2 linked regions of the Homo sapiens genome follow. The protein of the gene in region 1 interacts with the protein of each later gene in a pairwise test. Each region holds a gene or a part of one and is shown in the gene's direction. Other genes may lie near its edges.

Evidence for each region.
Region 2: the proteins of HMBOX1 (region 1) and UBE2Z interact in binary tests that used the Homo sapiens proteins (3 or more experiments, as listed by UniProt).

Annotation. Positions count from the first base shown.
Region 1 is NC_000008.11:29,047,381-29,053,770, forward strand, and holds the end of HMBOX1 (homeobox-containing protein 1), read left to right. Parts: coding exon 1-73; intron 74-1,573; coding exon 1,574-1,668; intron 1,669-1,909; coding exon of another isoform or gene 1,910-2,005; exon of another isoform or gene 2,006-2,014; intron 2,015-2,821; coding exon of another isoform or gene 2,822-2,848; exon of another isoform or gene 2,849-3,006; intron 3,007-3,637; coding exon 3,638-3,775; 3' UTR 3,776-5,882; downstream 5,883-6,390. UniProt on the Homo sapiens protein: Binds directly to 5'-TTAGGG-3' repeats in telomeric DNA. Associates with the telomerase complex at sites of active telomere processing and positively regulates telomere elongation.
Region 2 is NC_000017.11:48,903,818-48,911,406, forward strand, and holds the start of UBE2Z (ubiquitin-conjugating enzyme E2 Z), read left to right. Parts: upstream 1-4,589; 5' UTR 4,590-4,686; coding exon 4,687-5,003; intron 5,004-5,121; exon of another isoform or gene 5,122-5,166; intron 5,167-6,990; coding exon 6,991-7,063; intron 7,064-7,589. UniProt on the Homo sapiens protein: Catalyzes the covalent attachment of ubiquitin to other proteins. Specific substrate for UBA6, not charged with ubiquitin by UBE1. May be involved in apoptosis regulation.

The DNA of each region.
Region 1 (6,390 bases):
AGAGTTACCTCCCTGAAAGTATATAATTGGTTTGCTAACAGAAGGAAGGAGATCAAGAGGAGAGCCAATATTGGTAATGTATCAGTGAGGCTGCTTTTCTCTTGTGCAGCAGTTGTGAACGTCATGTTTATATTAAGATTAACTTCAGTTTAGAAACTGCAAGTCTAAAGGATCCTAACTTCTCTTTTTTTTTTTTTTTTTTTTGAGACGGAGTTTCACTCTTGTTGCCCAGGCTGGAGTGCAGTGGCGCGATGTTGGCTGACTGCAACCTCTGCCTCCTGGGTTCAAGTGGTTCTCCTGCCTCAGCCTCCCGAGTAGCTGGGATTATAGGCATGTGCCACCACACCTGGCTAATTTTGTATTTTTAGTAGAGATGGGGTGTCTCTATGTTGGTCAGGCTGGTCTCGAACTCCCGACCTCAGGTGATCCGTCCGCCTCGGCCTCCCAAAATGCTGGGATTACAGGTGTGAGCCACCGTGCCGGATCCTAACTTCTAAGCCTAACAAAAGTTGCCCTAATGTCTTTCATTGTGTTTTTAATAAACCACAGTTAGTATTATTTACACTATTTGTAGTGTAATGGTAATGACATTATTATTTATAAAACTCATTCTTCTTAAAGTTCTAGAATATAGAATTAGACATGGCCCCTGAGCAATTGATTACTCCTGTGGTACATTTGAAAGATACTTGTAAGATCTTGAGAAAGGGAATGTAATACCCAGAATTTCTTCATTATTACTGGACTATGACTTAAATATTAGGAAACAATTGATTAATGGTTTGGAATGAAAGAGACTTAATAGACAAGGAACGCAGCAAAAGGCAGAGATAAAGAGCATTTAAGAAATATGGATTCTTGATGTAATCATTTATGTATATATACACATATCAAAACATCACCTTGTACACCATAAATATATACAATTTTTATTAATTATATTTCAATAAAGCTGAACAGAGAAAACAAAAATGCCAAAAGTGCCCTAGAGGGAACTACGAATACAACTGAAAAAGGAAGAAATAAAGGATTTGTTCCCATTCAAAACTGTAACAGTAATAAATAAGAATAAGAAATTTAAGTTGGTGAGTCAGGTGGGATGTTGGTTTTTAGCTTCTAAAATTGCATTTCATTTCTTCCATCCAAGTACTAACCAGGCCTGACCCTGCTTAGCTTCCAAGATCAGACGAGATCGGGCGCATTGAGCGTGGTATGGGCATAGAATGCATTTCATTTCCTTCCTTTGTAAATACACTTTTTATTCATCAGTACAGTTCTCATATGCTCTATAGAACCCCAAGATAGGAAGACTGTTTAGTTAGTTAGCAAGTATTTATGAAGCACCTAACATGCACAGCAGCAGAGACCCCAGAATGGCAAATGTGTGCCTCCCCTGACCTACATGCAGTTGAATTTCATCCATCTTACAGTCTAAAAGAAACAAATGTAGAGAAATACAGGTTCTTGTTTAATTACATTCTAATTAATTTCCTTAGCACAAAAATTCATTCAGTGTTTCAGCCATTGTGATAAGGTAACAGATAATTTAGGGATCTATTTGCTTTTTTCGAAGAAGCAGCAATCCTGGAGAGTCATGGGATAGATGTGCAGAGTCCAGGAGGCCACTCAAACAGTGATGATGTCGACGGGAATGACTACTCTGAGCAGGTGAGCCCCTGCGCAGCTGGGCGAGGTTCTTGGTGCCTGAGCAGGGGGTATAGTGGGACAGCTTAGTTCCTTGGGTGTGGCTGATGGGGTGGGGGAGGGGAAACAGTCACTGTCCCTCCACTCTGCTCCTGTGTCTAGTTAGATTTCATGTAATTTGAAAGGAATGTGGTAAGATTCAGTTGTCCTGTTGAATTTGTGAGAGATCGTTATTCACCCACATGGATTTATTGTCATACAACAGGATACTTGGCAAGTACGCAATGGGGAGGAGGAGGAGGGAAGAAGTTCAGAGGGAGGCAGAGAAGCAGAGAAGGTAGAAGAAGAGAGGAGGATCTGATCCAAACAAGCAAGTTACACCATTCACGACACACACTCAGTGTTTGAGAAATACTAGGGGCAGCTGGACCCCATGCCTAAACACGTACCGACGCAGGGCACGATGGAAGGCCCCACTCACTCTGGCCCCACTGCAGTGGGAACCCTCCTGCCCAAAGGAGTGGTTCTTCCAGAGTCTCTGGCACACTGACACATGCATCCTCTCATAAGTGCAATACCTGCATGACTCTTCACCTCGCCCTGATTTATTCTGCATTGCTTTTGGGGAAAATGTATTTAATTGTAGCCACTGCGTGGAGTAATTCAGTAACTAAGACTGTGGGAGTCCCTCCTCGACCCCCACATAGATGTTGACAGATTTCATTAAAATTTTGATAGGATTTAAATTTCCATTTGGAATATGCAGAGAACGCATGGTACCTTCCCCTAGACCACAGCAAGAAAACTTCTGCTCATTTTTCTGGGGTCTGTGCTTTTTTCTTGCTCCTCAGCCAGCTCATATAGTCCAATGTGTTCTTTAATAGCCTCTGTTTACCACACACCTAGAATGCATGCAAGTGTGTGCTGATCCCTTTGTAAATTCTAAAAACTAATCTGTGAACATCAGAAGGAAACAATGATGTCCACACTTCTGAAGAACTACCATTTTTTCCCATTTAGGACTCTAGTTAATAGCCCCAAGAGAATATTCTGTAAGTCTTTCTGTTCGGAAACATTCCTCTTTTCAGTCTACCCACATAGATGGATCATTTCCATCTTTTTTTACAGATGCCCTAAGGGCAGCACATTCCATGTTTTGTTTGTTTTTTTCCTTAAGGGACTTACCCTTTCCAAAGCTCTTTGATACGGAGTTCCCCTGAAGATGACAGGTGAGAAACATACCCCTTATTTGTAACACCATCTTCAGTGCCTGACGTACATCCTGCAATGCCAGCTTCCTTCACAGCTTTATTGTTTAACACATTGAGCTGCGCGGGGAGGACAGCTTCACACTAGTTCTAGGTAAGACGCCTGCCGCTCCCCTTGCACAGCTGCCTGCAGCAGGAGAGCTCGACACCTTCCTCCCCTTTCTCCCGTAGCCGTTTCTGGCAGTGACATGTGTCCTGTTGTAATGGAGAATTCTTTTTTTCTTTTTTTACAAAAATGCATTTTTTATCTGTAAGATGTAATTGTAAGTTCTGTCTAGTTTTCTCAGTTCAGAGAGGGACCATGAATTCTAATAATCTATTTGTAAGAGCAGCAATCTGGAATTTAATAGCTCACTAGTATGGCCTTCAGTGATTAGTGCTATATTTGTTACAAACAGAAAGATCCAAATTGTTGGTTTTATATCAATCACTGCAGGTTTGATCATCATCACCAGCAATCTTATTAATAGAATGAATAGAATTCTCAGTGATGAAAAACATTTTTTGTGCTTTTTACTTGTTGAATCATAAGATTATCAACTGAAAATCTTTGGACCTATATCCATTCAGTGTCTACTTAAATACAATTTACCTCTATTTTATCATGAGCCCCTCCCCCAGTTTCCTCCCACGAATGTTCTGCCTCCCCTTGCCCCAGCATGTCTCTCTGTGACTAAAGAATTCTTCCAATCCACTAATAACATTTCTTATTTCTGCACATCTAGGATGACAGTACGAGCCATAGTGACCACCAAGACCCCATCTCATTAGCTGTGGAAATGGCAGCAGTCAACCACACTATCTTGGCATTGGCCCGACAAGGAGCCAACGAAATCAAGACAGAGGCCCTGGATGATGACTGATCAGGGAGGTTAAACATGACAAGTTAACTTAGTTTAGACGTAGCACCTTAGCAGACTTTCCTCGGTCCTTAACATGTGTTCTTACAGTATAACTTGCAGTTTCTTGTATGTCAGGTAGCTGTTAGGGTCTTGTTCTGTGAAGATGGCATGGTGCCCTCAGCCTTTGCATATACTCTCTCAGTATTAACTCCCAGTAAATAATAACCAACCAACCAACCAAACTTCCCTCTCCCAGCCCCCGAGGCTAGAAAATCTTGCTGCTCCGTCTTAGCATTCCAAGAAAGTGCTTCCAGGTATTTAGATAGCCCTCAGTTCTCAAATATTAGACTACGTGTAAAATCTTGGGTACCTTTAGATTCTTGTAACACTAGTCTGTACTCCCTTTTCCTTCCCCAAGACTGATAGGATGCAAGCTGAGGTCGTGGCACAGGAATGACAGACACCATTTGGGGAGTATCCACAGAGTCAAAGGAACACTAGAATCCCCACCTCAGCGTGAGGATAATTGATTTCCAGCTGCAATAAGCCGTGCCTCATTATAGCCACACTGTGGCTAGATTATACTTCTTTGGGTGCTGTGCTAAGAATGTCAATGGAAAAAGCCGATCTCAGATTTTGTTTGAAGTTAACATGCCTGACACAGACATCCTTTCCTCTCACAAGCTGTGTGACTTAGTAGATAAAATACTGCCTTCTGCCTTTGGGACCATGATTAAAAACAAAGACAAAAACCAAAAGTCATTAAAAAAAAAAAAAAAAAAAACCCAGCTTGAGAGCATTGGAAAAAAAAAATATGAGCTGAATGTCTAATGGATGCTAAGTCCAGTTTTCAGAACCACTGTACATTCCACGGCACAGTTAGCAGTGCCTGCCTGGAAAAGTTTTGGAGGTCATCGTGGAAGTTGCTTTGCCTCCTGTCAGTGTCCCCTTTCCCTGCTACCAAAAAAGTCTTTCAAGGATGGAGCTAAGGTCAAAAATGAGTGAAAAAACTTGCAGTGTTTGTATCCATTAAACGGAAGCCCCCTCACTCTGAGAGGTCACTAGAGGACTTCATAGTGGGGTTGTGCTGCTTATCACAGATGCAGACACTTGCCCAGATAGGAGCAGAGAAAAGCAGGGGACGTTTCCTACTCACATTGTGGCTGTATGAGAACACGATGGGACTGCTTTGCTGTTCTCTTTACTCTGTCCTTGGAGAGGTGTGAAAAGCTGTATTGCTACAGGCAATTTATTTAATAATTGGAAGCCATATTGATAATGGATGTGGTAATATTTGTAAAGTTTAATCTACTTTAAGCGGCAGTAACTAATGGAATTTTTTTCCTTGATCACATATGTAGCACTTTTGTTACTTTTTAAAGATATTTATATTTGATAAATCTTTTTTTCATTTTGAGAACTCAAAATACCAAACAGTGAACTTGCATTCTAAAGTCACCCTGTGATCACCTTGTCATCTAGTAGCAAAATGATGAACTATTCATGCATCAAAGAAAATTACATCTGCTGGCCTTGTATGAAAATGATCTCTTGGCATCCCGATTAAATGACACACTGTCACTGTGGGTAAGAGGAAAGAGCCTTCAATGTAGCAGCACAGGGTGCGCCTGAAAGAGGCACAACTGCTGTGGATTTTCTGCCTCGCTCCATCTCTCCTATGTATAATGAAGCCTTGTTTAAAGGGGCATGTGGGGCTGGATGTTAAGCACGGCTTCTTTTTGTCCGTTACCTGAAAACAATTTCTAAGATAAAAGGAAGGTGCCATTTCCTTACCTCTTCACCCATCCTCCTCCACCAAATGTATTCAACTTAAAACTGTGAGAGAGAGAGACTGAATGACCTTCCTCAGTTTTCCCTTTCTCATTCAGGAGATACTGAATATCCGCCAGTTTGTAGTTGGTTTCCTTCCACTTAAGGCACACGCTGACTGCATCATTTCCTTATCTGTTAATCCTGCTTATGTGAGTGTGAGGAAAGTCTTTGAGAGGGCATGAAAGTGCCACCTTATATATGTCTGTGACTTTAAAGAGCTATATGCAGGGCCTGGTCCCACTTTTGTCCATGGATTTCAGGGGGAAAAAATATATGTACTTTTTTCAGCTTCCAAGCATTGAAGTGAAGTGGAGCCGTCTCTTCTGTTTTACTGTATTACTTGAACCAACAAATTCAAGAGTAGCATTTGTTATTCTCAGGAATGAGCCTCCCACCGCCCCCCCCCCACCGACTCATATTCTTTTTTGGTTTATCTTTTTATTTCAATTAGGAGATTACGTTCTCTTCCTTTCCTTTTATTTTGCTTAGAGGAAATGTAACATAGTCCCATTTTTGTGGAATTTTGACGCTTATTCTCAATTGAATCAGAAAGTACAAGGAGACAGAGAAAAAATCCGCTCTGACAAGCCACATCCATGATTGATTGTAAGGGGATTATTATAATTGATAGCTTCTTTATCATGGGATTGCTAGTATCATTTGTACTTGCTGGTCTTTTTAAAGGAACAGACTGACTCAAACTGTTAAGACAGCTGCAGTTTCTAAAGAAATACAAAGATTGCCGTGGATGCACTCAAAGGTTTCATTGTTTTAACACCTTTAAGGGAGAAAAAAAGCTTCAG
Region 2 (7,589 bases), on another chromosome or scaffold:
GATTCTCCTGCCTCAGCCTCCCAAGTAGCTGGGATTACAGGTGCCCACCACCACGCCCAGCTAATTTTTGTATTTTTAGTAGAGATGGGGTTTCACCATGTTGGCCAGGCTGGTCTCAAACTCCTGACCTCAAGTGATCCGTGCACCTCAGCCTCCCAAAGTGCTGGGATTATAGGCATGCGCTTTGCAATCTCAGCTCACTGCAACCTCCACCTCCCGGGTTCAAGCAATTCTCCTGCTTCAGCCTCCCGAGTTGCTGGGACTACAGGCGCGTGCCACCACGCCCAGCTAATTTTTGTATTTTTAGTAGAGATGGGGTTTCACCATGTTGGCCAGGATGGTCTCGATCTCTTGACCTCATGATCCACCCACTTCAGCCTCCCAAAGTGCTGGGATTACAGGCATGAGCCACCGCACCCAGCTGGCAACCACTGTTAACATTTTCTTGGGTATCCTCTTTTTTTTTTTTTTTTTTTGAGACAGTCTCACTCTGTTGCCCAGGTTGGAGTGAAACAACACGATCTCAGCTCACTGCAACCTCTGCCTCCCAAGTTCAAGCAATTCTCCTGCCTCAGCAGGAGTAGCTGGGATTACAGGCGCCTGCTGCCATGACCAGCTAATTTTTGTATTTTTAGTTTAGACGAGGTTTCACCATGTTGGCTAGGCTGGTCTCGAACTCCTGACCTCAGGTGATCCACCTCAGCCTCCCAAAGTACTGGGAGTACAGGATGAGCCACCACTCCCGGCCTTGTGTATCCTTTTATAGATATTCTGGCATCTTTATTATGCTGATAAAACACTATACCAACAAAACGCAAAATCTGCATAAAATACTATATTGATTCATTTCATTTCATGTTGCGCCTAAGCTGTGCCATGCCCTGTGCTGGATTCACATATAATACATTGTCTAGAGCCCCAAGGGTGTACACGTTGTGTGCGTATGTGTGTTAAGAGGGGATGGGGATGCTTATACCTGTAATCCCAGCACTTGGGAGGCTGAGTGGGGTGGATCACTTGAGATTAGGAGTTCGAGACCAGCATGGCCAACAGGGCGAAACCCAGTCTCTATTAAAAATATAAAAAGCAGCTGGGCATGGTGGCCCACACTTTACAAAAACTTCTGGAAATGTCATAGTTAATCCTCTGGGAAACTTTGAGAGGTAGGAATTACTGAAAATACAAAATTAGCCGGACGTGGTGTAGTCCCAACTACTCAGGAGGCTGAGGCACAAGAATCCCTTGAAACTGGGAGGCAGGGTTGCAGTGAGCTGAGATCAGGCCACCGCACTCCAGTCTGGGTGACAGAGCAAGACTCCCTCTCACAGAAAAAAAAAAGGGGGGGGGGTGGGGGCAACAGGTACCAAGGGACCATAATTAGTACAAGGTAAAATATAAGTGTGGGAGTGTCACGTAGTGGTTAGCACTTGTTCTCAGAAGTCAGATTTGGTTTACAGTCCCAATTATGCGACTTGCTCTCAGCATGACCCCATGTAATTCACTGAACCTCTGTAAGTCTGTTTTTCCATCTATCAGACCAGATTAATAATAGTACCTAAGGCCAGGTGCGGTGGCTTACGCCTGTAATCCCAGCACTTTGGGAGGCCAAGGCGGATGGATCATAAGGTCAGGAGTTCAAGACCATCCTGGCTAACACAGTGAAACCCCATCTCTACAAAAAATATAAAAAATTAGCCAGGCGTGGTGGTGGGCGCCTGTAGTCCAGCTACTTGGGAGGCTAGGGCAGGAGAATGGTGTAAACCTTGGAGGTGGAGCTTGCAGTGAGCCGAGATCGCGCCACTGCACTCCAGCCTGGGCGACAGAGCAAGACTCCAAACCAAAAAAAAAATAAAAATAAATAAATAATAGTACCTACTACTTCACTGAGTGTTGAAAGGAATAAAGCCAAAGTATACAAAATGCCTGCCACATATTAAACACTCAATAAATGTCTGCTAAAAAAATAATTTTTTAGGCCAAGCACGGTGGCTGACGCCTGTAATCCCGAGCACTTTAGGAGGCCAAGGCGGAAGGACTGCTTGAGCCCAGAAGTTCGAGACCAACCTGGGCAACATGGTGAAACCTCGCTTCTACAGAAAAATACAAAAATTAGCCGGGCATCGTGGCACGTGTCTGTAATCCCAGCTACTTGGAGGGCTGAGGCAGAGGTTGCAGTGAGTTGTGATCCCATCACTGCACTCCAGTCTGGGTGACAGAGCAAGACCCTGTCTCAAAACAAATCAATCTTTAGCTCTCCATAAATCTTGGTCATTATCCTTCAGGTCTGCATTCCATTACTGTAAATTCATAAAACTCTAAAAGGCAGGAAGGGTGGGGTGGGTGGATGACTTCTGTAATCCCAGCACTTTGGGAGACCGAGAAGGGCGGATGACTTGATCCAACTCCAAAAGGAGTTGGAGACCTTCCTGGCCAACATGGTGAAACCTCGCCTCTACTAAAAAAATACAAAAAATTAGCCAGGCGTAGAGGCGCCTCTACTAAAAAAATACAAAAAATTAGCCAGGCATAGAGGCATGCTTGTAATCTCAGCTACTGGGGAGGCTGAGGCAGGAGAATTGTTTGAACCCAGGAGGCGGAGATTGCAGTGAGCCACGATTGCGCCATTGCACTCCAGCCTGCGTGACAAGAGCAAGATTCCCTCTTTAAAAACAAAAAACAAAAAACAAAAAAACTCTAAAGCCAGACTCTTTTTTTTGAGACGGAGTCTCACTCTTTTACCCAGGATGGAGTGCAGTGACTCAGTCTCGGCTCACTGCAACTTCTCCTTCCCGGGTTCAAGTGATTCTTCTGTCTCAGCCTCCTGAGTAGTTGGGACTACAGGCGCCTGCCAACACACCCGGCTAATTTTTGTATTTTTAGTAGAGACGGGGTTTCACCATATTGGTCAAGCTGGTCTCGAACTCCTTACCTCAGGTGATCCACCCACCTCGGCCTCCCAAATTGTTGGGATTACAGACGTGAGCCACCGTGCCCGGCCCAGACTTCTTTTTTAAAAAACCAAACTTGGTGGCAAAACATCCAAAGTGAGGCTATTCATTTGACTTGGTACGAATGTTCATACACTTTGATGCAGAAATGTCAATAGGTTTGGCTACCCGGCGCTGCCCCACTCCTTGCTTGGTGTGTCATTCCAAAGTCTGAAATACATCTGGCCCCACTGGTTTCCAGTTAATATTGATCCTATATTTTTGCTAGGGAAAAAAGTTTTTGTTTTTGTTTTGAGACGGAGTCTTGCTCTGTCGCCCAGGCTGGAGTGCAGTGGCACGATCTCCGCCCACTGCAAGCTCCGCCTCCCGGGTTCACGCCATTCTCCTGCCTCAGCCTTCCGAGTAGCTGGGACTACAGGCGCCCGCCACCACGCCCGGCTAATTTTTTGTATTTTTAGTAGAGACGGGGTTTCACAGTGTTAGCCAGGATGGTCTTGATCTCCTGACCTAGTGATCCGCCCGCCTCAGCCTCCCAAAGTGCTGGGATTACAGGCATGAGCCACCGCGCCCGGCAAGGAAAAACAGTTTTTTAGGAAGGCCCCTGTCATTCTTAGTCCATAGGAATTTTTTTTTTTTTTTTTGAGACGGAGTCTGGCTCTGTCGCCCAGGCTGGAGTGCAGTGGCGTGATCTCAACTCACTGCAAACTCCGCCTCCCGGGTTCAAGTGATCCACCTGCCTAAGCCTCCTGAGTAGCTGGGACTACAGGTGCACGCCACCACGCCCGGCTAATTTTTGTATTTTTAATAGAGGCGGGGTTTCACCATGTTAGGCTGGTCTCGAACTCCTAACCTCGTGATTCGCCCACCTCGGCCTCCCAAAGTGCTGGGATTACAGGCGTGAGCCACCGAGCCTGGCAGATTATTTTTCACTTTAAACATTTTAGGAAAGACCCAAAGAATCCTCAGGGTTTACACTCACAGTACCTCGATTCCTGTATATTCCAAGATTTGTGGGAAGAAAAAGTACTAAGCTTGGAGTCAGGAGGCCTGATGTTTCTTCCTTTCACCAAGCTTCTCTAGTTCTGTTTCATTATCCCCATGGCAACAACTAGCAACAGTGACTGGCATTTAGTAGGCCCTTCATAAATATATGTTGAATAAACTCTAAAAGAGGTAGCTTTTCATTCCAAGTTGAGTTCTCTCTTGGTCCTGTTGCAGGCAAGGGCAATGGTACCCTGCCCTAGGTGCACAAGTGTGCAGGAGGGATCAATCGCAGAGCCTTTCCGAGAGAAGGGGCCCAAAGCGAGTCAACTTCTCTACTGAGCTTCCCATGAGGATGCTGGATCCCCAATCCTAACCATGCAGACGTCTGAGGGTCGCCGCCATTAACGGGAATGATATGGCCCTTCCTCCCCCACTCCCTCCTCTCTTCTCCCCTTTCAACACTTGAATTGGGCTCTCCGCTACTTCCGCACAGCGCAGGACCCACACGAGCCCAGAACCATCACGGCCTGCTAGTTCCCACCCCTCCCGTCCTGGAGGACCGTAGGTGGACGCTCTTGCAGAGCGCCTCTCGCTGGTTGGGGCGGGGGTGGGCGGAGCCAGCACCGTCTGGGCTGTGGAAGCGGAGGGGGTGGGGACACTCTGGCCCGGTTCTCGGTGGTGCGGGAGCGGGCGGGAGCAGCGGCCGCTCTGGTCGGCGGACGTGCTGCCGAGTAGTCCCGGAAGCGAAGCAGCGATGGCGGAGAGTCCGACTGAGGAGGCGGCAACGGCGGGCGCCGGGGCGGCGGGCCCCGGGGCGAGCAGCGTTGCTGGTGTTGTTGGCGTTAGCGGCAGCGGCGGCGGGTTCGGGCCGCCTTTCCTGCCGGATGTGTGGGCGGCGGCGGCGGCAGCGGGCGGGGCCGGGGGCCCGGGGAGCGGCCTGGCTCCGCTGCCCGGGCTCCCGCCCTCAGCCGCTGCCCACGGGGCCGCGCTGCTTAGCCACTGGGACCCCACGCTCAGCTCCGACTGGGACGGCGAGCGCACCGCGCCGCAGTGTCTACTCCGGATCAAGCGGTGAGCCGGGGTTTTTCCTCCCCCAGCCCCGAGCTCCGGGGCTCGACCTTCCCCGCCCCCCACCCTCTCCCACTACAACTCACCCCCCACCCACTGCGCTGCCCTCGCGGCGGCCCACCTCCACGGCCCAAATCTTGCCAGCTCCGGGCGTCGGGATCCAACTCCCTTCTCCCCCCACCCTCAGACCCGCAAGCACCAACCCCCGCCTCGTGTGCCCAGATCCGACCCCGCCCCTCGACAACCTCCCGTGAGCCCTCCGTCTCCATTCCGGCCACCCTCCCCCACACCTCCCACCTCCGGGTGGAAACCCGACCCTTTAGCGCTTCAGTAACGCCCCCTCCCGCCTTCGGCGCCGCCCCTATTTCCCCTTCCCCACCCCAACCTTGCTAGATGCTGCCCGCAGGCCCCACCCATCGGTCCCCTCTCTTCTCCTCTGGAGCCCCGTTCCTAACACAGACGAACTCAGCTTCCTTTGCCATGCCTCTGACTCGAGCCAACCTTTCTTTTTATCCTCCGTTTTTCTCAGATTCCCTCCACACAGTCTTTTCCCAGGTCTAGATCGCTTCCCTCGCCCCAATCTTTCCTTGAACCCCTTTTCCAGTGTCCCAAAGCTGTCCACTCTTACGCCTCTTCCAGAAACACAGGCTACCTCCCCCCAATTCCCCAGTGCCACTCTGGATTGTAATATCCCACTCAGGAGCTTCTTTCTTGTAATTTCCCTCCCCCCACCCCCCACCCTCCCCGGGTCGTCTGTTTTACTTCTATGAAGCAAATATACTCATCAAATATAGGAACAAAGGCCTAAGTCCTTTCTGTGCTTATTTCTTGGGTGACTGATCTTAGATCCTATCATTTAGTAGATGATGTTTTCCAGAAGCACATAGAATAGTACCTATCGCATAAGAAAAGGGCAGTGCTCTTTAGCTATTAATCCTGAAACCTGTTTGACTTCTCCCCATGCCCCCATCACAAGCATCTTCGTTTAGTTCTTATTCCCCATGTTCCACGTCCTTTCAGATGTCTCTGTGTCTACTTTTCAAGGTTGTAATAAAAATTAATATAATGTGTGTAAAGTACCTGGCACAGTGCCTGACACAGGAGGTCAACTGTGGAGGGATTGCCACCTCTAACTGAAACTCAGCACTCAACTCTTTTCCTCCTCCAGCCATTTCAGTCATCCAATTCTGACATACCTTTGAGTTTGGCCAATGCTTTCCTCTGCTTTGTCGCCTATTTGCCCTTTTTATGTCCCTACCCACCCTAGCAAGTCCCTAGGCTTTTCGCCACCTAGAATGTTCTTTAGCCCCTTGCTCTCAACTGATCCATTCCAGTTGGTGAGATATGAGTCAGAAATCTTATCTCCTATGGAAGTCCACATGTCATCTTCCAGATGGGAGATTCTTAGCAATTTCTGAGGATCCCTCCCCAGCCTGAAGAGATCTCTACCCTGAGACACCCCTGGGCAAGAAGGCCACCATGATAGTCTTACTCTCTGCTGGCTGGCTTGCTTCATACAATCCCCTTACCAATAAAGGTCCACTGTATAGTTTATAGAATTAGTTTTTTAGTGGAGTTGATGATGCCTTTCCAGTTACTAAAAAATCTTCATTTAGCATTCAGTCGTAGTACCTGGGAATCATGGAGGTGGGGAGTGAATGAATTGCCATGTGGGAGGAAGTGAGAGTAAGTGGAAAGTGGCTTTTCCAGGCTGACATTTGATGCCATTGGGATCTCTGATTTTTTTCCTCTCTCCCTCCCCTCCCCCTGAGGAAACAATGCCCTTTTGATAATAATTTGCTCTCTGCCTGCCTGACAAGTACTCAGCTGAGATTTCTCAGCCAACAAGACAGTACAAACACTTGCGGTACCAAGCACCACTTTCTCAAACCCTGGCCTCATTGAGGTGATAACAACTGTCCTGCTCAAGGGATTCCCCCTTTCCCCCTCTTCCTCACTCCTTCCCCCACCTCCTCTTGGTGTTATACAGGGATATCATGTCCATTTATAAGGAGCCTCCTCCAGGAATGTTCGTTGTACCTGATACTGTTGACATGACTAAGGTATGTAACTTGATGGGGGTTTGGGGGGTTTTGGGAAATTGGGGGCCATAAGGTTGCAAAAGCCTAAAAGAGATTATTCAGCTCACCTCTCCGATTACACAGATGAAGAAATCAAGACCCCAGGAGAGTAAGTGGCTTGTCCAAGGTCACATAGTGAGGTGGAGCAGCACTTTGAAGAGGTGTCTGTTATTAGTGTACCCCATAGGTACTGATTGGCTTGGAAAATCCCAGTTCATGTCTGTTGTCGCAGCTTGACTATTTATAGGGCATTCTTTCACTCTCAAAAATGCTCCTGTTTGGATAATAAATTATATGGTCACCCTATCCATTGTACTACCCAGCTCTTCCCCCATCCCGTTACTCTTGACATTAACTATGCTATGGTACTATAAATCAGATGTAGGGAAGGTTGGGAATAGGGCAAGCTTGACTGAAGTGTTTGTGGTTAAAGGACTTTGCTCAGGATCCTGTCCTTACTGGTTGCGTTTAAGTATCCCTTCCACCCCAAAGACTATACCTCTCTTGT